5 separate regions of the Homo sapiens genome follow, and regions 1, 2, 3 and 5 are each linked to region 4. The links come from fine-mapping of genetic effects on gene expression. A gene starts in region 4. Each other region holds a variant in brackets. All regions are shown on one strand. Distances are from middle to middle.

The links. PIP is the estimated chance that this variant, and not a neighbour inherited with it, causes the effect.
Region 1: its variant is the best candidate, but not a certain one, in a credible set for the expression of AP3S2 in monocytes (Fairfax 2014, PIP 0.73).
Region 2: its variant is the best candidate, but not a certain one, in a credible set for the expression of AP3S2 in damaged cartilage (Steinberg 2020, PIP 0.87).
Region 3: its variant is the best candidate, but not a certain one, in a credible set for the expression of AP3S2 in adrenal gland (GTEx, PIP 0.53).
Region 5: its variant is the best candidate, but not a certain one, in a credible set for the expression of AP3S2 in whole blood (INTERVAL, PIP 0.89).

The regions. Positions count from the first base shown.
Region 1 is chr15:89,843,125-89,848,226 of GRCh38, forward strand. All of the region lies in intron 8 of ARPIN-AP3S2 (ARPIN-AP3S2 readthrough), which reads right to left. All of the region lies in intron 4 of AP3S2 (adaptor related protein complex 3 subunit sigma 2), which reads right to left. Among named protein-coding and RNA genes, the nearest start is that of MIR5094, 5.0 kb to the right of the region's middle. RefSeq lists an enhancer at 5,082-5,102. The variant G/C (reference allele first, on the strand shown) is at 3,107.
Region 2 is chr15:89,857,253-89,862,354 of GRCh38, forward strand. The region is part of intron 8 of ARPIN-AP3S2 (ARPIN-AP3S2 readthrough); the gene reads right to left. The region is part of intron 4 of AP3S2 (adaptor related protein complex 3 subunit sigma 2); the gene reads right to left. Among named protein-coding and RNA genes, the nearest start is that of MIR5094, 9.1 kb to the left of the region's middle. The variant C/CTTTT (reference allele first, on the strand shown) is at 2,147.
Region 3 is chr15:89,864,755-89,869,856 of GRCh38, forward strand. The region is part of intron 8 of ARPIN-AP3S2 (ARPIN-AP3S2 readthrough); the gene reads right to left. The region is part of intron 4 of AP3S2 (adaptor related protein complex 3 subunit sigma 2); the gene reads right to left. Among named protein-coding and RNA genes, the nearest start is that of MIR5094, 17 kb to the left of the region's middle. The variant A/G (reference allele first, on the strand shown) is at 2,966.
Region 4 is chr15:89,891,495-89,896,596 of GRCh38, forward strand. AP3S2 (adaptor related protein complex 3 subunit sigma 2) reads right to left here and starts at 2,500. Exons shown (of 6, transcript NM_005829.5): 1 at 2,387-2,500. The coding sequence starts at 2,455. The region is part of intron 5 of ARPIN-AP3S2 (ARPIN-AP3S2 readthrough); the gene reads right to left. It overlaps ARPIN (actin related protein 2/3 complex inhibitor), which reads right to left. Exons shown (of 6, transcript NM_182616.4): 6 at 3,512-5,102. RefSeq lists enhancers at 789-1,538, 2,531-2,680, 3,035-3,782.
Region 5 is chr15:89,826,433-89,831,534 of GRCh38, forward strand. It overlaps ARPIN-AP3S2 (ARPIN-AP3S2 readthrough), which reads right to left. Exons shown (of 10, transcript NM_001199058.2): 10 at 4,167-5,102. AP3S2 (adaptor related protein complex 3 subunit sigma 2) reads right to left here. Exons shown (of 6, transcript NM_005829.5): 6 at 4,167-5,102. Among named protein-coding and RNA genes, the nearest start is that of ANPEP, 14 kb to the left of the region's middle. RefSeq lists an enhancer at 919-1,810. The variant C/T (reference allele first, on the strand shown) is at 2,801.

The sequences.
Region 1 (5,102 bases), 48 kb before region 4:
CAGGCATGTGCCACCACGCCTGACTAATTTTGTATTTTTCGTAGAGATGGGGTTTCTCCATGTTGGTCAGGCTGGTCTCAAACTCCCAAACTCAGGTGATCCGTCCGCCTTGGCCTCCCAAAGTGCTGGGATTACAAGCATGAGCCACTACACCCAGCCAAGTATTTCTTAAGGAATCTACAAAAGGAAGCACTTGTGCCAACTAACAGGTGACTGGAAAAACTATGGCAGGGCCAGGCCTGGTGGCTCATGCCTGTAATCCCAGCACTTTGGGAGGCCAAGGTGGGTGGATCATTTGAGGTCAGGAGTTCAAGACCAGCCTGGCCAACATGGTGAAACCCCGTCTCTACTAAAAATACAAAAATTAGCCAGGTGTGGTGGCATGCACCTGTAATCCCAGCTACTCAGGAGGCTGAGGCAGAATTGCTTGAACCCGGGAGGTGGAGGCTGCAGTGAGCTGAGATCGCACCATTGTACTCCAGCCTGGGTGATGGAGCGAGACTCTATCTCAGAAAAAAACAAACAAACAAAAGTTAGCTGGGCAGAAGTGGCATGTGCCTGTAATTCTAGCTACTTGGGAGGCTGGGGCAGGAGAATCGCCTGAACCCAGGAGGAGGAGGTTACAGTGAGCCAAGATCGTGCCACTGCACTCCAGCCTGGGCAACAAGAGTGAAACTCCGTCTCAGAAACAAAAACAAAAACAAAAACAAAAAAACTACGGCAAAAACTTACGGTGAGCACTGAAAACTACTTAACTGTAGGTCTAAGACTAAAATAGGATTAGGGTAACAACAGATCGTCAATACTATATGCTTTGATGATGTATAAAACTCCAGCTAGCAAAAACTAGGAAGAGAAGAGGGGAAAAAGGAGGGAGGTAGAATACGAACACTGATTTCCTCACCCTCAGTAACTGAGAGTCCATGGATAGCATTTAAAACTAAAGTAATAAAGATATGGTTAATCTGACTTTTACTGTGACTTTTCCCGTGAATGTTCAAGCCTACCATCATTGTTATAAACAACAAAACTTTGAGAGCCACTGAACTTTTGGCTAGGGCCAAAAAACCCTCTTTCTTTCTTTCTCTTTCTTTCTTTCTTTCTTTCTTTCTTTCTTTCTTTCTTTCTTTCTTTCTTTCTTTCTTTCTCTCTCTCTCTCTTTCTTTCTTTACTTTTTTCTTTCCTTCCTTCCTTCTTTCCTTCCTTCCTTCTTTCTTTCTTTCTTTTTTTAGAGACAGGGTCTTGCTCTGTCACCCAGGCTGGAGTGCAGTGCCATGATAATAGCTCACTGCAGCCTTGAACTCCTGGGCTCCAGCAATCCTCCTGCCTCAGTCTCATGAGTAGCTGGGCCTATAGGCATGTGCCACCATGCCCAGCTTTTTTTCTTTTTTTTTTTAATTTCTAAGTAGAGATGAGGTCTTGCTATATTGCTCAGGCTGGTCTTGAACTCCTGAGCTCAAGGGATCCTCCCGCCTCAGCCTTCCAAAGCATTGGGATTACAGGTGTGAGCCAATGTGCCCAACCTAGAAGGATCTCTTCTGCTGATTAGAGTTTTTTGCCATTATTGCAAAAAACTCACCCAGAATGCATCATCTACAATTTCCAGTTTCTTAAAGTTAGAACTCAAACTGCTGTGAAACAGTAAGTACAGAATCCTAGATTTTTAAGATCCTTCCACCTCTACTCTTCCATAGTTATCTTGCCCAAACCTAATTCAGCTTCATTTCCTTTTTAAAGTACTTGTCCTTCCAAAGCATTCCTCTTACTTTTCACAGAGTAATTTTCTTTTCTTTTTTTTTTTGGAAACAGTCTCACTCTGTTGCCCAGCTGGAGTGCAGTGGCACGATCTCGGCTCACTGCAGCCTCTGTCTCCCAGGCTCAAGCGATTCTCTTGCCTCAGCCTCCTGAGTAGCTGGGACTACAGGCGCCCGCCACCACGCCCAGCTTATTTTTTGTATTTTTAGTAGAGACGAGGTTTTACCATGTTGCCCAGGCTGGTCTTGAACTCCTGAGCTCAGGCAATCTGCCTACCCCGGCCTCCCAAAGTCCTAGGATTACAGGCGTGAGCCACCATGCACAGCCAGAATAATTTTCTTTTCTCCCTCATAATTTAATCTGTATATTATTTAATCAAATTACATAATTACAGTACCAGTTTACTGGCATAAAGAGATCTGGAAACATCACAACTGACCTTTGGTAAGCAAAATGACTCAAGTGTAAGTGAGCAATGGATGAGCGAACAGCTGCCCGTGTTAGTCCTGCTAGTCAGTTCAGACCTTGTCCACTGAATATGAAGTTGACCATGAAAGATGGCTAACATTTCTCTGATTGGAGATAGATGGGACTTAAGAAAGTTGGAGGCTGCCAAGCATGGGTGTGGGAGCAAGCAGTCAAGAATCAACACTGAACTCATGTACCTAAAGAACTGGAGATAGAGTCAGGGCACAAAGAAGGGTTCTGTTAAACAACAGAAGTTGGCTGATGCGCTGACCTTGAGGATGCCTGCAGAAATCTAAGTAAATACCTGAGAGAACACTGACAGATAAAGTCACAAACCAACACAGGGAGGCTGGTAGGGAAAGAAAATCTGAGACGTGAGTCATGTAAATGGTATTCAAAACCACAGGAACAGAAAGAAAGAGGCTAAGTCTTCGAGAGGCCTAAACTCAGCTTCACACAGTGTGCATTGAACAAATATGAATTATGAAGTAATAATAATTCAACCTTCTACTCAGCAAGCATGGGAAATAATGACACTAGCAAAATTCACTCAGAAGTGTTTATTAACAGAGTTTAAACAAAAGTGCTACTGATTTTTCAGTACTTGGCAAATCCAATGGTAATTCAACCTAAAAATAATTACAACCAGGATGAGTTTCATCTGACATAAAGATTAGGATAACCCCAATAAACCAACAGGATATCTTGATATAAGGGGAAGGCAATAGAGAAAATGCTTCGGGTGATAAATCTGAAATCTTAAAAGGTAAAATGAGGCATAGATACTGATGTTTTCCAAGATCAAGATACATAAATTTATGACAACATTTTAGTGAGTGAAAGTCGGTGTTTTTAGCTCTGTCCTATTTAAATTTTTCTCTTG[G/C]AACCCCTGAAAATAGTCAAGAGTAGGAATGAGTACTGTAGTCAAAATGTCAATTCCTCTAAAGACAATCTAACCTGTTATCGAGTCTCTCCACTCTCCCCCAACACCTCTGGACATCTGTGTCTCTTTATTTTTTTTTTTTCTTGAGACATGGTCTCACTCTGTCGCCCAGGATGGAATACAGTGGCATGATCTCGGCTCATTGCAACCTCCACCTCCCAGATTCAAGCGATCCTACAGCCTTAACCTCCCCAGTAGCTGGGACTACAGGCCACATGCCACCACACCCGGCTAATTTTTTTTCTTTTTTTTTTGAGACGGAGTCTCGCTCTGTGGCCCAGGCTGGAGTGCAGTGGTGCGATCTCGGCTCACTGCAACATCCGCCTCCCGGGTTCAAGCAATTCTCCTGCCTCAGCCTCCCGAGTAGCTGGGACTACAGGCGTGTGCCACCACACCCAGCTAATTTTTTGTATTTTTAGTAGAGACAGGGTTTCACTGTGTTAGCCAGGATGGTCTCGATCTCCTGACCTTGTGATCCGCCTGCCTCGGCCTCCCAAAGTGCTGGGATTACAGGTATGAGCAACTGCGCCCAGCACACCTGGCTAATTTTTGTATTTTTTGGTAGAAATGGGGTCTCACCATGTTGGCCAGGCTGGTCTCAAACTCCTGATCTCAGGTGATCCGCCCACCTCAGCCTCCCAAAGTGCTGGGATTACAGGTGTGAGCCACCTCGCCTGGCCTCATTTTTTCTTTTCTAGGATGCTATCACCTCATCCTCCATCCCTTGAAGGTACTTGCTTCTATAACTGGACCTACTTACTGTCTGCAACACAAAGTTAACCTCTGCAGACAAAAGTAGATTAAGACCAGGCATAGCAGCTCATGCCTGTATTCCCAGCATTTTGGGAGGCCTAGGAAGGAGGATTGCTTGAGCCCAGGAGTTCAAGACCAGCCTGGGCAACATAGTGAGACCTCTGTCTCTCTAAAAAAAAAAAGTTTAAAAACTAGCTGGGCATAGTGGCACAAGCCTGTAGTTCCAGCTACTCGGTAGGCTGAGGTAAGAGGATCACTTGAGCCTGGAAGTCAAGACTTCAGTGATTGCACCACTGCACTCCAGCCTGGGAGACAGGGCGAGACCCTGTTACAAAAAAAAAAAAAAAAAAAAAAAAAAAAGTAGATTAAAATGAGTCTGCTAGTTTCATATCAGAATTGAATCTAAGAAGAAAAATAAAAGTGTTTCTTCAAGGATACAGATGTGCCTCAGGAACCTAGCTCTAGAACTACTAGGGGTGGGGACAAGTCAGTTGCAACAACCCTCCGGAAGGACAGAGGATTCCATGCTCTTCAAGGGTTCCATCCCTGGTTGTTTCTCACTGAAATCAAAGAAAGTTCTGAATCTAATCCCATGTCAACAGAGATCACTTAAAAACAGACTGATCTGGTACCTGAAGATAATAAACAAGAAGGCATAAGCAAGGTATTTAAATTACCTTTTACTCTAGTAAAAACACAGTCTCCAAACCTTAAATTGGTCATGTTCCAAATGTTTAAGTATTTAAATTTACAATGCATTTTTCTATAAAGGTAATAAGTAAGATTTTCAAGGCTAGCAGCTCATGAAAGCAGACTTAAATCCATAAAGCTACCCAAAATGTGGTACCAGAGAGCACCCCTGCCACTACACCTAATATGAACAATACTGTTTCTATAATAAAATGCAGTTCTGTATTGGGATGGCAGGATTCCATCTAACCGAAAATTTCACAGGCAGAGAGGATAAGTAAAATCTTTTGAGACACTAGCAGCATGTTAATGCATGCCACATCCCAAGCTTAATCGAATCCATAGAAACCTCTAATCTAGATCAATCCCTCTCCAGGTCCCTTGCACTGTAGGGCAAATGCCTGTTGTGCTACAAAAGACAGAGGCTCACATTCCTACTGTGGAGTCTTTCTCAAAATAACTGTGTTATACATAGAAGACAAAAACACTAATC
Region 2 (5,102 bases), 34 kb before region 4:
ATTACAGGTGTGAGCCACCGTGCCTAGTTTATGAGCTTCTTACAGGTAGAAAATTTGAGTTTTATATCTTTGTATCTCTATATTTAGCGCAGTGTCTTTTTCCTAATGAATGCTTAATAAATGATTGTTGTTTGGTAATCAGAGAAAAGACAAAAACACTCTCAGACATCAGTACTTCATCAAGGTCAGAGAGCCAAGGTAAAGACAAATGATTTGCAGAAAGCCTCTAAGGAGGGAGGCACTCGCCTCCCACATATAAAAACCATTTATTCTGTTAAGAAATTTTATTTTAAGTCATCTTAAATTCATTTGGGAAGTATAGAAGATATAAATGCCCAATAATCAGAGAAACTGAAAAGCTGCCATGTGGGATACCTTTCCTAAGATTCAACCATGTTTTCTTCTTATTAGAGCACTCCTCTATTTTTCTGTTACTAAAATTTCTAGCTTCCCTTCTACAAAGTGATAATAAAAATCAAACATTAACTTTTCCTCTAAGAAAATCCATGAAAAAACCATGGTCATCATTGGTAATATTCAACTAGTTCAGGTTCTCCTCCCTCTTGGGCACATAATAGGATCATTTCCCCATCCCTTGGGTGGGAGCATGTGACTGATTTTGATCACTGAAATGTGAGTGTACGAGGATGTGTCACTTCAAGAGCCGGAACACACACATGCCCAGGTAGAAGCATATGTTGAGGAGATTTCCATCAGCCTGGACCTCAGAGGAACTACAGTCAGCAGACACACCACAATGGCCACATAGCACGAGTGAAAAAATAAACCTTGCTCTCATAAGCCATTGGGATTTTGGAGTAATGCATTACCTAGCCTACCTTGATTGATACAAAAATCAAGCCTGGAAAAGGGTTCTTAGTTAGGAATCAAGAGATTCTGCTTTGCTGGGTGTGGTGGCTCACACCTGCAATCCCAGCACTTTGGGAGGCTGAGACAGGCGGATCACCTGAGGTTGGGAGTTTGAGACCAGCCTGATCAACATAGAGAAACTCCGTCTCTACTAAAAAAAAATACAAAACTAGCCGGGTGTGGTGGCGCACGCCTATAATCCCAGCTAGGCAGGAGGCTGATGCAGGAGAATTGCTTGAACCCAGGAGGTGGAGGTTGCAGTGAGCCGAGATCACGTCATTGCACTCCAACCTGGGCAACAAGAGCGAAACTCCATCTCAAAAAAAGAAAGAAAAAGAAAGAAAGAAAGAAAGAAAGAAAGAAAGAAAGAAAGAGAGAGAGAGAGAGAGAGAGAGAGAGAGAGAAAGAAAGAAAGAAAGAAAGAAAGAAAGAAAGAAAGAGAAACTCTACTTCTTATCTTAGAGTAGGCTAATCCTCTTCTGCAATATAAGGAATAATAGCAAGAACAATAAAATTGAATCTCAATTCCAGCCTTTCAGGGTGCCTATAAATCAGCAACCAAAGCAAAATACAATTCGTTTTATCTGCAACATATCCAAGTAATACCATGGGTAATAAGCTTTGTTTACTGACTACAACCTTGACAAACACTAGGTTTTACTGAAAACGGCTGCATATCAAATGAATATCTCTAAAGGTCAAATTGTGCTGTTTTGTGTACACTGTTATTCTACTAACCAGTAATAAGGAATGACTAACACACCAAACTTGAAGCAGCAGGTAATCAATGAGATTGTGCACTGAGGCAATCCAAAGTTCAAGTAAGGAAAGCGAGTGTGTATATGGCAGCAGATATTCAGTATAGTCTGGAACAATCCTTGCTTTTGTTTTTTTCTTTTTTTTTTTCTTTTTTACTTAAAGAGATGGGGTCTCACTTATTGCTCAGGCTGTTCTCAAACTCCTGGGCTCAAGTGATCCTCTCGCCTCAGCCTCCCAAAGTGCTGGGGATTATCGTCGTGAGCCTCCACAACCAGCCCAAGTGTCCTTCCTTCCTTCCTTTCTTCCTTCCTTCCCTCTCTCCTTGCTTCCTTTCTCTTTCTTTCTTTCCTTCTTTCTTTCTTTTTCCCTCCTTCCTTCCTTTTTTTCTTTTCTTTCTTTCCTTTTTTCTTTTCTTTTTCTTCCTTCCTTCCTTTCCTTCCTTCCTTTTTCCTTCCTTTCCTTCCTTCCTTCTTTCCTTCCTTTCCTTCCTTCCTTCCTTCCTTCCTTTTCTTTCTTT[C/CTTTT]TTTTTTTTTTTTGAGATGGAGTCCTGCTCTGTCGCCCAGGCTGGTGTGCAGTGGCGCGACCTCGGCTCACTGCAACCTACACTTCCCAGGTTCAAGCAATTCTCCTGCCTCACGTCTCCCGTGTAGCTGGGATTAAAGGTGCACGCCACCACGCCTGGGTAATTTTTGTATTTTTAGTAGAGACGGAGTTTCACCACGTTGGCCAGGCTGGTCTCGAACTCCTGACCTCAGGTGAGCCACCCGCCTTGACCTCCCAAAGTGCTAAGATTACAGGCTCGAGCCACCGCGCCCAGCCCTTCTTTCTTTTTTTTTCTAAACAAATTACAGGGATTTTAGAAATTTAAGAAATCATTATTGCTGATCTTTTTTTTTTTTTTTTTCTGAGATGGAGTCTCGCTCTGTCACCCAGGCTGGAGTGCAGTGGCGCGATCTCGGCTCACTGCAAGCTCCGCCTCCAGGGTTCATGCCATTCTCCTGCCTCAGCCTCCAGAGTAGCTAGGACTACAGGCACCTGCCACCATGCCCAGCTAATTTTTTGTATTTTTTAGTAGAGACAGGGTTTCACCGTGTTAGCCAGGTTGGTCTCGATCTCCTGACCTCGTGATCTGTCCGCCTTGGCCCTCCCAAAGTGCTGGGATTACAGGCATGAGCCATCATGACCAGCCGATCTCTGTCTTTATGTTACCCTGAGGGAATAAGATTTTGGCCTCTGAAAAAAATATTCTACAGCCAACACTAAGAATTGAAGATAACATACAGAAAGTACAGTAGTCCCCCCTTACCTGCCTAGAATATGTCCTAAGACCCCCAGTGGATGCGTTATTTTTTCCTATACACACATACCTAGGATAAAGTCTAATTTGTAAATTAGGCACAGTAAGAGATTAACAACGATAACTAATAATAAAAACAATTATGACAATATGCCAGCATCATTACTCTTGCACTTTGGGGCCATTATGAAGTAAAATAAAGGTTACCTGAACACAAGCACCGTGACACTGTGACAGTCAAGATGGCTACTAAGTAAGCAGTGGGCAGCTAGTGTACACAGCACGGATACAATGGATGAGGGGATGATTCCCATCCTGGAGCAGGACAGAGCAACATTTCATCATGCTGCTCAGAATGGCATGCAATTTAAAACGTATTGTTTATTTCTAGAATTTTCCATTTAATATTTTTGGACCATGGTTGACTGTGCATAACTGGAACTACAGAAAGTGAAACTGCAGATAAAACTGTCTGTCTTAACCACGCTTTAACTCTGCCCTACAACTGGCCTTTCTGTATGTAAGATAATAAATTTCCTTATTACTTAAGCCAAAAAAAAAAATTCTGCCACAAAATTCTTACCTATCAAGCATCAGTAAAGAAGGGCTTTATAGATGCAATGGAACACAAGGCTGGTCTCAGCTCTCTTCTTCTCTTAGGCACATCCAGATAGAGAAACAGAGGCAGCCAGGGATAGTCAGGTATGTTAACTCGCACCTTTTACAAGAACTAAAACTCAAACAGAATACCTTATTCTTCCAGACCAAATAGCTCCTCTTTCATCATCAAAAACACAAACTGTCTGTCCCTCACTTGTCCCTCCATTCCTGGAGACCTGCAGTCAGGACATCTGCTTCAACGTCACAGGGTGTGGCAGGTATTAATGAGCTTTGTTATCACAAGCTCTGTTCACAGAAGGGACATCTGGCAAACAAAACCCAATATTACTGTTTATGATCCTTTCATCTTAGTGCTCACGAGTTAATTTTGAACTCTCAGCATTTTTCCATTTTAGCAGCCTATGCTTAGCAGAGATTTAAAATTCCATACTATGAGGTTTTCTTGGGTTCAGCACCATTCAGAAGCATATGTTTCAATTCTCTTGAGAGGGCCCACTGCAAATTGAAATCTATTTAAAAAAAAATAAAGCGCTGGATAAATTCCCTTGACATAGCCATTGAATTGTGACTCTGATGACCAAATCTTGAAAGCCCAATTGAATTCTAAATCCAGCTTTGCTATTAGATACTGGTAGATCAGAATGTTAGGTCACCCACACAGTTTTCTTTGAACAAAATTCAATTCACCATAATTAACACCAACACCCAGCTCAGTCATAATGTTGAGCTGTGTTTAGGGATTTCTGAAAGCAAAAGGGAACCAAGTACCCTAGGCTCTAAATGGCACAGCCAGGAGAGCTGATGGTTACCCCAGAGACTATGAAATCAGACCTTACTCCAGCCTCCAACAGTTTAAATCATGAGCAACCTTATGAGACTAGAGTCCTGGGAACTCTTTAGTGACAGTCACCTGAAGATTACCCCAGTCAGTAAAAGGTACCACACTAGATTCAGTGAGGAATACAAAGATAAGGCAGTCTAACCAAGCAGGGAAAACATAGAAAGGTACATAAATTAAGGTCACAGAAGGATAAAAATAATACTATACCTGGTTCAAAGAGATCACAATAGGCTAGACCATGAGGGCAAGCTTTAGGGTGGTAGGATTTGAGCAGCACTTGAATGACAGGCAGTATTTAGTACATGAAAAGACAATTCAGGCAGAGAGTTGAGGCAGGAACTACAAAATAAGTAGGAGTGGTCCACTGTGGCTAGAGCAGAAAGTGTCTGGCCAGTAGTTACGGAAGTAAAGCCAGGATAGGATGGGCACAAATTGTGGAGAGCCTTGAATGTGTCCGGCCAAGGAGTCAAGGCTAGTCTAAGAAGTACATTAGAAAAACTAATTTCAGTATGTGGGATCAACAAGAAGGAAGAGAGAATAAGGTTAGAAAACCTGCCAGAAACAATCAAGAGACATGACAACTAAAGACAATGTTTGACTCATAACTGAAACTGAGATTTAAAAAAAGATCTAAAGGACATTTCTGGGACAATTGGGAAACTTAAATATGAACTATATATTGGAAAACAATATTTATTAATGTTAAATTTCCCAACTATG
Region 3 (5,102 bases), 27 kb before region 4:
TGTTCTCAAACTCCTGACCTAAGTTGACCCACTCGCCTCAGCCTCCCAAAGTGCTGGGATTATAGGCATTAGCCACTGTGCCCGGTCCTTACAAATACGTTTTTAAATCACAGGCAGACAACCTCACAGAAGAAAGAACAAAGGCCCTGAATAAACATTTCACTAGAGAGGACCTCCTAATAGGCAATAAACAAGAAAAGATGCTCATCTTCATAAGAAATGCAATTGGAATGACAATGAAATGCCAGTACATACCTACTAGCTGGATAAAAATTAAGTTCTATATCCATCAGTCAGGACAGGCTTGGTTAAGTCACAGTAACAATTTTAACATTTCATGGCTTAAAGTAACAAGTTTATTTCTCTCATACTATGCACACATCCACTGTGCGTCCACTGGGGAGCACTGCTCTACCTCATCCTCAGTTAGGGACCCAGGCCCTGGAAGGCTGTGTGTCCATGCTTCCACAAATGGAATATATATATATATATTCCATTATTATATATATTAGCACTGGCTCCTAAGTTTTGCCTAGAAGTGACACATGGCACTTCCACTCACACTTCATTAGCTAAAGCAAGTCACATGGCTACACCTAACTTCAGGAAGGCATATTAGTATAATTTTACCATGTTTCTCGAAGGGGAAAGAACTGTAAATATTTAGTTAACAGTTCTAATGATTACCACACTGAGAATATAAACCTTTGGTGAGCATACAGAGCACTGGGAACACTCACCCCCGATTGGTAGAAGTATAAATGGATACAATCACTCTGGCATTATCTAACAAAGTGGCAGATACTATGGTCTACAGTCCAGAGGCCTTGAGCCTCAGACTTCTTTTGCCAGTGCTGCAGCCCTGCTGGTGCTTTTGTGCTTCCTTCTAGAGGCCTGTTTCTTCCTTCTAGAGGCCTCACCTATGACCCAGGAATTGCACTGTTAAGAGAAATAGATGTTTCAAGAAAATGTACAAAAATGTACAATAGCATCCATTTTCAAGAATATTCATGACAACATATTTCATAAAAGCTCCAAACTCAAAACAATCTAATTCCATCAGTCATAGAATGGATAAATTCATATAATGAAATCCTATGCAGCAATGAAATTAAACTTCCTAAGGCCACATGTAACAAAATGGGTGATTCTTACAAATAACACGGAGCAAAGAAGGTAAAACACAAAACAACAAATGTTGACTTTCAAAGTCACCTTGGAGGCTGGGCGCGGTGGCTCACTCACGCCTGTAATTCCAGCACTTTGGGAGACTGAGGTGGGTGGATCACCTGAGGTCAGGAGTTGGAGACCAGCCTGACAGATATGATGAAACCCTGTCTCTACTAAAAATACAAAAATTAGCCGGGCATGGTGGCAGGCACCTGTAGTCCCAGCTACTCCGGAGGCTGAGACAGGAGAATCACTTGAACACGGGAAGCAGAGGTTGCAGTGAGCCGAGATCACACAACTGCACTCCAGCCTGGGCAACAGAGCGAGACTCCGTCTCAAAAAAAAAAAAAAAAAAAAGTCACCATGGAGGTATACTCCACGTTGCCTAGACAATGAACTAGCTTAGACTAGGGGGTTGGGAGGCTACCCCTTCTCCCAGTGAGAGGGGCTGCACCCAAGCACAACTTCCCACAGCACCTACAGCTGTCTTCTCCAGGTGTGTATTATCCCACAGGTCCCTAAGTTTCCAGGTGTTGGGCAGCTGGCATTCCCAGACAACTTCCTTTTTTTTTTTTTTTGAAATGGAGTTTTGCTCTTGTTGCCCAGGCTGAAGTGCAATGGCATGATCTCGGCTCCCTGCAACCTCTGCCTCCTGGGTTCAAGTGATTCTCCTGTCTCAGCCTCCTGAGTAGCTGGAATTATAGGCATGCACCACCAAGCCCAGCTAATTTTGCATTTTTAGTAGAGACGGGGTTTCTCCATGTTGGTTAGGCTGGTCTCGAACTCCCGACCTCAGGCCTCCCAAAGTGCTGGGATTATAGGCGTTAGCCACCGCACCCGGCCCCTAGACAACATCTATAAGCAGCTGGCACACAAATACAGATTTCGTGGTGTCTAAGCATTCTGCCTATCTCTCCACTAGCAAAGCTACTCTCACAGGTGCCTGATAAAAAAGACAGCATTGGAGGAGGTGGGTGATGGGAGTCATTCCAGCAGAGACACCTCAATACACCTCTCCATGGGCTCTTCTCTTGCTTTGAAAACTCCCCCTTTTCCCCTCTCCCTCTCCCTCTCCCTCTCCCCCTACCCCTCCCCCTCCCCCTCTCCCTCTCCCTCTCCCTCTCCCCACGGTCTCCCTCTCATGCGGAGCCGAAGCTGGACTGTACTACTGCCATCTCGGCTCACTGCAACCTCCCTGCCTGATTCTCCTGCCTCAGCCTGCCGAGTGCCTGCGATTGCAGGCACGCGCCGCCACGCCTGACTGGTTTTGGTGGAGACGGGGTTTCGCTGTGTTGGCCGGGCCGGTCTCCAGCCCCTAACCGCGAGTGATCCGCCAGCCTTGGCCTCCCGAGGTGCCGGGATTGCAGACGGAGTCTCGTTCACTCAGTGCTCAATGGTGCCCAGGCTGGAGTGCAGTGGCGTGATCTCAGCTCACTACAACCTACACCTCCCAGCCGCCTGCCTTGGCCTCCCAAAGTGCCGAGATTGCAGCCTCTGCCCGGCCGCCACCCGGTCTGGGAAGTGAGGAGTGTCTCTGCCTGGCCGCCCATCGTCTGGGATGTGAGGAGCCCCTCTGCCTGGCTGCCCAGTCTGGAAAGTGAGGAGCGTCTGCGCCCGGCCGCCATCCCATCTAGGAAGTGAGGAGCGCCTCTTCCCAGCCGCCATCACATCTAGGAAGTGAGGAGCGTCTCTGCCCGGCCGCCCATCGTCTGAGATGTGGGGAGCGCCTCTGCCCCGCCGCCCCATCTGGGTTGTGAGGAGCGCCTCTGCCCGGCCGAGACCCCGTCTGGGAGGT[A/G]AGGAGCGTCTCTGCCCGGCCGCCCTGTCTGAGAAGTGAGGAGACCCTCTGCCTGGCAACCACCCCGTATGAGAAGTGAGGAGCCCCTCCGCCCGGCAGCTGCCCCGTCTGAGAAGTGAGGAGCCTCTCCGCCCGGCAGCCACCCCATCTGGGAAGTGAGGAGCGGCTCCGCCCGGCAGCCACCCCGTCCGGGAGGGAGGTGGGGGGGGTCAGCCCCCCACCCGGCCAGCCGCCCCATCCGGCCAGCCGTGCCATCCGGGAGGGAGGTGGGGGGGTCAGCCCCCCGCCCGGCCAGCCGCCCCGTCCAGGAGGTGAGGGGCGCCTCTGCCCGGCCGCCCCTACTGGGAAGTGAGGAGCCCCTCAGCCTGGCCAGCCACCCCGTCCGGGAGGGAGATGGGGGGGTCAGCCCCCCCACCCGGCCAGCCGCCCCGTCCGGGAGGGAGGTGGGGGGGTCAGCCCCCCGCCTGGCCAGCTGCCCCGTCCGGGAGGGAGGTGGGGGGGTCAGCCCTCCGCCCGGCCAGCCGCCCCGTCTGGGAGGTGAGGGGCGCCTCTGCCCGGCCGCCCCTACTGGGAAGTGAGGAGCCCCTCTGCCCGGCCAGCCGCCCCGTCCGGGAGGGAGGTGGAGGGGTCAGCCCCCCGCCCGGCCAGCCGCCCTGTCCGGGAGGGAGGTGGGGGGGTCAGCCCTCCGCCCGGCCAGCCGCCCCGTCTGGGAGGTGAGGGGCGCCTCTGCCCGGCCACCCCTACTGGGAAGTGAGGAGCCCCTCTGCCCGGCCAGCCGCCCGGTCCGGGAGGGAGGTGGGGGGGTCAGCCCCCCGCCCGGCCAGCCGCCCCGTCCGGGAGGGAGGTGGGGGGGTCAGCCCTCCACCCGGCCAGCCGCCCCGTCTGGGAGGTGAGGGGCGCCTCTGCCCGGCCGCCCCTACTGGGAAGTGAGGAGCCCCTCTGCCCGGCCAGCCGCCCGGTCCGGGAGGGAGGTGGGGGGGTCAGCCCTCCGCCCGGCCAGCCGCCCCGTCTGGGAGGTGAGGGGCGCCTCTGCCCGGCCGCCCCTACTGGGAAGTGAGGAGCCCCTCTGCCCGGCCAGCCGCCCCGTCCGGGAGGGAGGTGGGGGGGTCAGCCCCCTGCCCGGCCAGCTGCCCCGTCCGGGAGGTGAGGGGCGCCTCTGCCCGGCCGCCCCTACTGGGAAGTGAGGAGCCCCTCTGCCCGGCCAGCCGCCCCGTCCGGGAGGGAGGTGGGGGGGTCAGCCCCCTGCCCGGCCAGCCGCCCCGTCCGGGAGGTGAGGGGCGCCTCTGCCTGGCCGCCCCTACTGGGAAGTGAGGAGCCCCTCTGCCCGGCCACCACCCCGTCTGGGAGGTGTGCCCAACAGCTCATTGAGAACGGGTCAGGATGACAATGGCGGCTTTGTGGAACAGAAAGGCGGGAAAGGTGGGGAAAAGATTGAGAAATCGGATGGTTGCCGTGTCTGTGTAGAAAGAAGTAGACATGGGAGACTTTTCATTTTGTTCTGCACTAAGAAAAATTCTTCTGCCTTGGGATCCTGTTGATCTGTGACCTTACCCCCAACCCTGTGCTCTCTGAAACATGTGCTGTGTCCACTCAGGGTTAAATGGATTAAGGGCGGTGCAAGATGTGCTTTGTTAAACAGATGCTTGAAGGCAGCATGCGCGTTAAGAGTCATCACCAATCCCTAATCTCAAGTAATCAGGGACACAAACACTGCGGAAGGCCGCAGGGTCCTCTGCCTAGGAAAACCAGAGACCTTTGTTCACTTGTTTATCTGCTGACCTTCCCTCCACTATTGTCCCATGACCCTGCCAAATCCCCCTCTGTGAGAAACACCCAAGAATTATCAATAAAAAAAAAAAAAAAAAAAGAAAACTCCCCCTTTCCTAGTAAAATCTATCCTTGAATCCCTGAATCTACACCTGAGATGTTAAGAAATTCATTTGCAGCCTGGTGAGCAACAGGTGGCATCTTCAAAGAACCCACTTTGCACACTAGGTGGTAACTTCGAAAGTAACACCTTGTATTTAACAATTTGGTTGTTTTTTTTTTTTTGAGACACAGTCTCGCTCTGTTGCCCAGGCTGGAGAGCAGTGGCGCGACCTCGGCTCACTGCAACCTCCGCCTCCCGGGTTCAAGC
Region 4 (5,102 bases):
CTAAAAATACAAAAATTAGCCAGGCATGGTCGTGGGCACCTGTAATCCTAGCTACTCAGGAGACTGAGGCAGGAGAATCACTTGAACCCGGGAGGCAGAGGTTACAGTGAACCGAGATCACGCCACTGCAGCCTGGGAGATAGAGTGAGATTCAGTCTCGGAGGGAAAAAAAAAAGCCACAGTGAGATACCACTTTACACCCACTAAAATGTCTTTAACCAAAAATAAATAAATAAATAACGAATGGCAGGGATGTGAAGAAACTGGAATCATTATACATTGCTGATGGAAATGTAAAATGGTGCAGCCACTTGGAAAATTTGTCAAATAGTTTGCAGTTTCTCAAAATGTTCACCACAGTTACCATATGATCCAGCAATTCTACTCCTAGGTATATAACCAAGAGAAATGAAGTCATAAGTCCACATAAAAACTTGCACAAGAATGTTCATAGCAGCATTAATTAGAAGAGCCAAAAAGCAGAAATATCAACTTATAAATTGACAATCAAAATATGGCATATCCATATAATGGAATATTATTCAGCAATAAAAGAAATGAAGAACATCAGATACATGCTACAACATGGATGAATCTTGAAAACATTATACTACATGAAACATGGCAGACACACAAAAAACCACTTATTTATGATTCCATTTATAGGCAACGGAATAGGCAAATTCCATTTGCCATTCTGGAACTGGCAAATTTAGAGGGAAAGAAACTCTCTGGGGCTGGGAGAGTCATGGAGAAATAGGGAGTGACTGCTAATGGGCAGAGGTTTCTTTTTGGGGTGATGAAAATGATCTAAAATTGATTGTGGTGATGGTTACACAGCTTCTGTGAACATGCTAAAAAACACTGAATTGTCCCCTTTAAATAAGTAAACTGGGGCCGGACACAGTGGCTCATGCCTGTAATCCCAGCACTTTGGGAGGCTGAGTCCGGTGGATTGCTTGAGCCCAGGAGTTCAAGACCAGCCTGGGCAACATAGAAAGACCCCGTCTCTATAAGTAAATAACATAAAATAAATAAGTAAACAGTATGGCATGTTAGTTTTATCTCAGTAACCCTGTTAGAAAAAAACTAGGGGGGAAATTTGCATACACACAAATGCAAATACAAATAGTTACGCTGAATACTCATATACATACATATATATATATACTTTTTTGTGTGTGTGTGTGATGGAGTCTCGCTCTTTCGCCCAGGCTGGAGTGCAGTGGCGCTATCTTGGCTCACTGCAAGCTCCGCCTCCCGGGCTCACGCCATTCTCCTGCCTCAGCCTCCTGAGTAGCTGGGACTTGGAGGTGCCCGCCACCGCGCTTGGCTAATTTTTTGTATTTTTAGTAGAGACGGGGTTTCACCGTGTTAGCCAGGATGGTCTCCATCTCCTGACCTCGTGATCCGCCCGCCTCGGCCTCCCAAAGTGCTGGGATTACAGGCGTGAGCCACCGCGCCCGGCCTGAATACTCATATTTTTACCTCGATGTAATCTACTTAATAAAATGTAATCTAGCTTTAAAAATCTTATGAAGGAGTAAAATTATTTTTTCATTTCTAATTGACAAAAGACAATAAAAGTCTGAAAAGGGTTTATTAACTTGTCAACAGACGCAAGAGTAGAAAAGGTGGAGCTGAAGCCTGAACACGTTTTCTGGCTCTTTCCCCTCTTCAGTTCCACCAGTCCCCCAATTATGTAACATTTTGAAACCCTGCCATGAAGAAATATAATCTTCGAAGACAGGAAGCAAATACTGATGTTTATGTGTTTGCAAAGGAACGTGTTGGGAAAATTCAAATTTACGTAATCACTTATTGAGCCCTTATGCGGCAGCATTTATAATTTCTCATCATTTTTCCACTTTTAAACTGATTTTCTTCAACCCTAAGAGTGAAGGGTATCTAGTCTCTGGAAAGTCCCAGCCAACACTGAAGCAAAATAATTCCAAAAAAAAAAGAACTTTTCCAGTTCTGGCTATAACAAAAACTTTCAGAAACTTAATATTTCTTCCTCATGAAACTGTGGTCAACAACCAAAAAGATGACAGAATGTGACTTCAATCACTCAAGTTCTCATCGAGGCACACTCCCCACTGTCGCTTCTATCTCGTTCCCAGAGACCCACGGGAAAATGTCACAAAATGGCACAGAAATGCCAGGATCAAGAAAAGGGTCAGCGAGAGCGGGGCAGTAGGGCGGGAGACAGAAGGCCTGGCACCAGCCTGCGCCTAGATTAAATGCTTAAGTAGGGCGAGGGTCATGCTCGGTGCAGGAGCCCCAGGTGACCAAAGAGCGGTGCCCCCGGGCGCCGAGAGGCCAAAGAGGAGGGAAGACATAGTGGGCGCCCTGAAGGGGCGTGGTGAAGCCGGGCCGCACTCACGAAACGCTGGTAGAAGCGGACTAGCCGTGGCTTCCCATGGTTGTTGAAAACCAGAATCGCCTGAATCATCTTTGCCAGCCACGGTTCTCTCAGCACCGGCTACTCCCAGAAAGCTCCTCCTTCCGCCACAACACGATCACTTCCGGTTGGTGCGCTGCTGAGAGCGGCACTCGGAAACTTGGCCCCGGCGCTCACGAGCCCTAGCACCCAAGGGTCCGGCCTCTCTGACGCCTTGGAGGGCAGGTGCGGATGCCGAGGAGAGTGGTCACCTCGGCCAGCGTTGGTTGGCCAGTCAGGATGCGAATCCGGATCTATGTCCCTCGCCCAGACCGACGGCTGGCCCCAGAAGCCGAAACGACCGTCAGCCGGGTTGCCAAAACGGAGAGGCGGCGGGAGCTTGCTTTTCTCACCGCCCGCTCCAAATCATGCACTCCCGCCATCCCCTTAGCGCTCGCAGAACGTTCCGCGGAGTGGAGACGCCGGTCATTCGGCCGTTCGTCGGTTATGGAACATTTCGTTCATTTTAATTTTTCAGTATTATAATGCTGCAGTGAATTACGTAGCTGTCTCTCCGTGCAGATGGGCTGTTCCTCTATGGTAGACGGTGAATGGTGGAATTAAGGAATTTTTAGTGCATTTCCATTTAAAATCCCAAATCGATCAAGTTCTTATTTTTGTTTGTTCTTTTAATGACCCAGTGTGGGTGAAGTGGAGCATGTCCGTATACTGCAGATGGAGCAGCGGATACAGATGCAAATCGATCCAGAGGACTGTTTGGCGATATGGATCAGAAGCCTTTAAAATATATAACAGTCCGGGCGCGGTGGCTCACGCCTGTAATCCCAGCACTTTGGGAGGCCGAGGCGGGCGGCTCACTTGAGGTCAGCAGTTCGAGACCAGCCTGGCCAACAAGGTGAAACCCCGCCTCTACTAAAATTACAAAAATTAGCCGGTTGTGGTGGCGCGCGCCTGTAGTCCCAGATACTTGGGAGACTGAGGCAGGAGAATGGCTTGAACCCGGGAGGCGGAGGTTGCAGTGAGCTGAGATCACACCACACTGCACTCCAGCCTGGGTGACAGATATATAACATATATATATATATATATAAAACATTAGACTCAGCGTTTCCAGCTCTAGAATTTATGATAAAATGATTGTGGATGTGTGAAAAGATTTAGCCTGAGGAACATACATTTCTGCCAGAGTATCTTCAGAACAGTAAAAAAAAGAAGAAAAAAATATATATCTCAGCAGTGTTATTACAGGGGAAAATGGGAAGAAAATTATTACAAAAATGAGAAATTGGTTAAGTGCATTGTTCTACATTGAATATGAGAAATATTAAATAGATAATAAAAATCATGCTGGGAAAGATTTATGATACGGAAGTGTTCATGACACCTGTTAAGCTAAAAGATTACACAAAGTATGTACAGGGACAACCCACTTTGCTCAAGATTGGAGGCAAATACACCAAAATATGAATCATGTATCTGATGGAATGGCAGAGTCAGGGTGTTTGATCTGTACAGGACCCTGGAACCACACTGCCCTGATTCAAAGCATGGTTCTGCGGACTGCCTGGGCACCCTGGGCAAGTTTCCCCATCTGTAGAAAAGGTGTAATATCAGTTTCCTAAACTGGAAAACTGGAAAATGAGTCTACTGACTTCAGACAGTTGTTATAAACACAAAGGGAGTTAGTATAATATTTGTAAGCACTTGGACAGTGCATGGCACATAACTGAGTACCACATAAGTGATTTAAAAACATCTTTGGGTGGTAGGATTATCAAGTTTTCCTTTTTTTCCTTCAAAGAAATATGTACTACTTTTGCAGCCAGAGTTCTGGGGTTTGCTTGTTTGTTTTTCAGAGATAGGGTCTTACCCAGGTTGGAGTGCAGTGGCACAGTCATACCTCACTGTAACCTCAAACTGCTGGCCTCAGGCAATCCTCCAGCCTCAGTCTCCCAAACCGCCACCACGCCTAGTCCAGTTTTTTGTTTGTTTGTTTGTTTGTTTGTTTGAGATGGAGTCTCACTCTGTTGCCCAGGCTGGAGTGCAGTGGCACAATCTTGGCTCACTGCAACCTCCGTCTCCCGGGTTCAAACAATTCTCCTGCTTCAGCCTCCCCAGTAGCTGGGATTACAGGCACATGCCACCATGCCCAGCAAATTTTTGTATTTTTAGTAGAGATGGGGTTTCACCACATTGGCCAGTCTGGTCTCAAACTCCTGACCTCAAGTGATTCACCCATCTCAGTCTCCCGAAGTGCTGGGATTACAGGCGTGAGCCACTGCGCCCGGCATGGCCCAGTTTTTAAATAAATAAAAACCAAAAGTCAGTTGCACTGAAACTTGACAAAATGTTTAAAATGTTGAGGAAGAATATCAAAGAAAATTCTGAAACAGAATTATGAAGAAGAACTAGCTCTGCCAACTATGAAAACCTACTTTGATGGTTCAAATTGTAATTATAGGAAGAATAACTGAAATATTATAAATAATTTAGGCATAAAATAATTTTAATATGTGATGTAGGAGTGGGAAGGAATTCAGTAAATACTATTAGGATAACTGGTTAGCAATTTGAAAATAAGTAGTTAGGTATAAAACCAGATAATAACCTAAACAGAAGAAAGCGAAATTGAATAAGATCCAAAAATCTGTATTAGCTTAGAAGCAATAAAAATCACAAAACATCAACAGATATATAA
Region 5 (5,102 bases), 65 kb before region 4:
GCACGATCTCAGCTCACCGCAACCTCCACCTCCCAGGTTCAAGCGATTCTCCTGCCTCAGCCTCCCAAGTAGCTGGGATTACAGGCATGTGCCACCACGCCCGGCTAATTTTTTTTTTTTTTTTGTATTTTTAGTAGAGACGGGGTTTCACCATGTTGGTTAGGCTGGTCTTGAACTCCTGACCTCGTGATCTGCCCACCTTGGCCTCCCAAAGTGCTGGGATTACAGGTGTGAGCCACCATGCCAGGTGGACTTTTGGTTTTGTCTGCAGCCTGGCTAGTTTCAGTCTAGGCTTTCCGCCTTCCCTTTGAGCCTGTGAGAGCTTCCCCACAGCCCTTCAGCGAGTGCCTTTCTGGGTTGGTTCTCTTTGCACTGGGAATCCTGACTGGTGCAAGGGAGCCGCTGTGTTCCCATTTCCCAGCTGAGGAAACACAACAGAGAGAGGTTAGGTGTGTTGCCCAAGGTCACACAGTTGGAAGTGGCAGAGGCAGGATCAAACCAAGTTCACGTCTCCTTCAGGGCTTTAGGACTATGTATCATAGTAAAATGCCCTCTCACACACCATTCTGACCACCTGGAAGTGGGCAGATAAGGGACTGGCTCAGGGTCACACAGTGAGACAGGAAGCTGGGCCTGTGCCCCCACCACACAGTGCCTCCTGCCCTCAAGGCTGAGTAGAGCGTGGAGCTTCACGCATGTTGAGAGGGAAATGGAAGGAGTTGAATGCATTCATTGATTTGTTGAGCAATCTCGTACTTACTGACAGCTGAATATGGGTCAGGCACTGTCCCAGGCACCAGCAAGGCAGCAGCAAAACAACAGTGAAAAAGAGAGTCGACATGGCACACACTGTCATATCGGGTGACAAGCGCCACAGAGGACAAAGTGGGGTGAGGGATGGGGAGTGAGGGGAGAAGTGGCTGCTTCAGCCAGGTGGGACCGGGAAGTCCTCTGCAGGTGAAGGCTGAGAGAAGTGAGGAGCAAGGGGGACCTGAAGACAGAGGCAGAGGGGATGGCAAGACAAAGGCCCTGCGTGGGAATGAGCCCGGCAGGTTTGAGAAGCATAAAGGCCAGTGTGGCTGGAAGGAGGGAGCCAGGCAGGGGTGCAAGATGAGGATGTGGGGTGGGTGGGGGCAGCTAAGCAGGGCCTTGGGTTTCTTTGAGGCTGGTGGGAAGCTTTTGGGAGGCTTTAAAGGCTGCAGGGCAGTGGGGGTCTGATGAATGCATGAGGTGGTTCACTCTGCGGTGGAGCGATGACATGAGCCACAAGGAGACAGAGGGGGAGGCAGAGACACTGCTGAGGGGCCTGAGGGGTTGTGGTGGTGTCCGGGCAGGGACACTGGGGTGGAGGATGCAGTGGTGACATGTGGGCTCCAGGACCACTGACTATCGTGCAGGATCTGGTGCTGGGGGGCAGTGAGTTCTCAGGGAGGGAAACTCGTGTCAGGGATGAGAAGACAGGGGCTGGGGATGCCGGGGACTGTGGGCCCAGAGCAAAGGGGAGCTGTGACACCCAGAGAAAGGGTGGCCTTTGGCCTCTCCAGGGCAGGGGAGCCCAGGGCAGTTGGGCAGAGCTGGGCTGGGGCTGAGCCAGTTGGGCTGACAAGAAGGCTTGGGCGGGACCTGACAAGGAGGACTTGCTTCAGGGTGTCAACCTGTACCAGGCTCAGGCTGCAAGGCCAGGTAGTGTCACCGTAACCCTCACCTGGTTGACACAGGGTCTGGACCCAAGGATTTCCTTCCAACCCTGTAATATCATTATGTACTTTAAACAGCTACTGGGCTGCTTGACAGTTTCTAGGGCTGAGGCAGGGCCCAAATGGTGGAGAAGAGGCAGCTAGAGGCCGGGAACTCAGAAGGGGAATCTCAGCAAAAAACACCCCGAAGGAGCTGAGTCCTGCGGGAGCTCCCTCTACGTGAACTGACGGGTGTTGTGGGAGCAGGTCCAGCCACACAAAGGAAGTTCCAGTAGAGCTGGCTCGGCAGTTGACAGTTTAAATCCTGGCTTGCCTCGGTGCTGCTGGCTTCGGTCCGCAGCTCCCTCTAGCCAGCCCACACCCAGCTGGGGAGCCACTCAGGGCTGGACAGGGGTCAGGGAAAGGGCATTCATGTCAAGTGCCCCGGACCAAGAGGCCGGAGAAAACCTTCAGTTCCAGGTTGCCTAGGGCAAAGGTGGTGATCTTTGGCAGCACAAAGTGCCCTGGGTTTGGGGCTGTCCTTTGGCCTCCAGTTTCAGTGCTAGCCTGGGAGTGTCCAGAGAGATGAAGTATGAGATGACTTGTCCCTCCCACCACAGTGCCCAAGTGGGAGGAGGCACGCTGACCCATGCAGCCACACACACAACCCACAGGCCTCATCTCTGACTCTCCCAGGCAAGCAAAGGAGCAGACTGCAGCAGCCCTGAGATGTGGCTGTTGCCTCGGAAGGAATGTTGCCTTGGAAGGAAGAGGAAGGGATCCCGGCGGAAGGAAGAGGAAGGGATCCTGGCGGCAGAGCCCACATGTGACACCAGTAACCCCCAACCCCTAAATCAGCTACCTCCATCCTGATTGGTCAATGCCTGAGCCATGCTGGTTGGTAAATATTTTGAGCATCACCTCATTCTGCGGAACCAGGGGACTCATTTGTGAAAACTACCTGGAACTCCTGTCTATCAATTTTAGCTTAGCCTTTCTTTCACAGTGTGCAAAGGGCGTTCATTCTCAGCAATGCAGAAGGCAACCTCCAGCTTGTCTCTCCTGAAATTGCAGCCTGGTCCTTGGAGGCTGGGGGAGGGGACACCCCTGTTTCCAAGTGCTCC[C/T]GGGAGGCCAGGCTGTCAGAGCTGTACTAAAATGTAAGGTTTGCTCTTGAGAAGGCTCAAAGATCCCACTTCTCATGGGAAGCGTGGAGTCCCTGCAGGGGCCCCAACTCTCATCCAGGCCTGCGAGGTCAGAGGCCCTCTCACTGGTCCCCAGATTCGAGCTCCCGCCGTGCTTGCTGGGACTGCCAGATGTCCCTCCTGACTCCAGGGAAAGGAAGTTCCAGGCTCCTCTCCCCTCTGACCCCCATACCGTGGGTCCTGCCAGTTGCTAGTTGCTCTTCTATGTCTTCAGACGCTCCCCATCTTAAGATTCACTTTCTGCAGACCCCACCACCTCCTCAACCATTTTATCTAGCTGTGCCTCTGGATACGGGTGTGGGACCCCACTGACAGGCCAGGCCAGGGCCAGTGTGCATCACCATCCCCGTGCAGTGCCCTCCTTTAAGGCCCACTTTGGTTTCTGCTGCCCTCATTTCCTCTTCCCCTTCTGCCAGGACCTGAGCTCTTTCTCCTTCCCAGCATCATCGAACTTATTCCATCCACCTCCTCAACTCCCATTCCCTCTGCAAGTCTCAGTGATAAGAGTAGCCAATGTTGACTGAGTGAGTCCTTCATCGTCCGCATCAGTGATTCACTGAATCCACACAGTAACCTACAAGGCAGGAATCATTACCCTCTTTTTCAGATGAGCAAACTGAATCTTCCGAAGGTTCAGACTGCACATTGCAGAGCTGGACTGTGACCCACACTAAGTTTGGACCTGCCCCACCATGAGGCTAGAGCCATCTCTTCACAGTTCTCACTCGGGGGGCTGGGCTGGGGCCAATGGAAGCCTGAGAGAGGCCGTCTCTTCCTGGTCCCCCTCCCCACTGAAAGTGCTTCCTTGACTTGAAGTCGCCCGCTGTCCAGATGCTCCTCTCTCCCCTGCCCACAGGCTCAGTCCTCAACCCTCTTGTCCCTCGGCCACAGCGCTCACCCCCACACCTCCAATCATCATCTCTGGGTGGAGACTCATTTCCTCTCCTGCCCACTCAGTTTCCCAGCTGGCTGGTGGACATCTGCCCCCAGAGATGCTTGGACAACCCCAACCGAATGCGTTCCACATCCAAACTCCTGATTGCCACCCTCCCAAACCCCCTCCCTCTCTCGAGAGCCCCATCCTTGCGCCTCCTCGTTACACGGGCTCCACCTGCCAACACCAGCTCTGCCATTCTCCTCTCCCTCAGCCTCCACGAGCCATCATCGGGTCCTTCCCACTTCCTGCTTCCAATACCACTATTCTGGTTCTCCTTCCCAAGTGCTGAGCACAGGGACCTGGAGAGCACATGCTGAGACTGTTAGAATGAACTGCCATTTGCCTCAACCGTTCACTCATCCAACAGTTATTTATTGAACGCCATGGACCAGGTACCGTGCCCAGCAGCTGGGATGCAGCACTGAACACGAGACAAGCCCCTGCCCTGGAGGGGCTTACATCCCGGCAGGGTAAACAGCCAGTAACTTCAGAAACCAAACATCCAGTACGTCAGAGTGCCATGGGAAAGGTACGCTGAGCAAGGGCGGGCAGTGCCAGGGCTGGGGTGCCACTGTACAGGGTGATGGGGAGGCCCTCCTCCCTGGAGAGGGCGGCATGATCCTAGTGGGCCGAGGTCAACCGCCAGGGTCAAACGGAACACAACCCACTCTCAGGAAGACATCCCTAACACAAATCCAGGGACTTTGTTTCTTAACCTTAAAATTGGAAACACTTCTTGCTACCAGGGATGGGGGGTGGGGCTCAGCGTTTGGGGAACCGGAGTGGGAGTCTTTTGCTGAACAGACTTTTGTTTTCTTAAGTTTTGAACTACATGAATGTATTTCCTTTTTTGAAAGGAAAATTGAAATAGGAAAAAATTTTAAGTCTTTTGGAAAGAATTAATCATTTTCATGGAACTGCTTCCCTATAGGGGCCTGTTTTCGTATCTGCCAACTTCCACTGAAACACGCAGATGGAGAACCCTCCAGTGCTCCCGAGAAGGGAGACAGTCTTAACCCAGAGGACAGCATCCACCAGCCTGCAAGCACGGACCCCGTGCTGGTGTGTGAGTGCAGCACACACTGGGCTAACCATCACCACAGTGAGACTGGCACCCTCTGGGGTAGGGTAGACTCAGGAAGGTGAAAATCAGGATGTCTGCCAGGAGCTGACAAATCCCTCTGGGACTCTCATACTTCAGAGGCTCTCCAGTTTGGCTATTGCTAAACTTGGACTAGCCCCTACTACCGATCTTAATACCCATGTACCAATCATTGCTGCATCCTA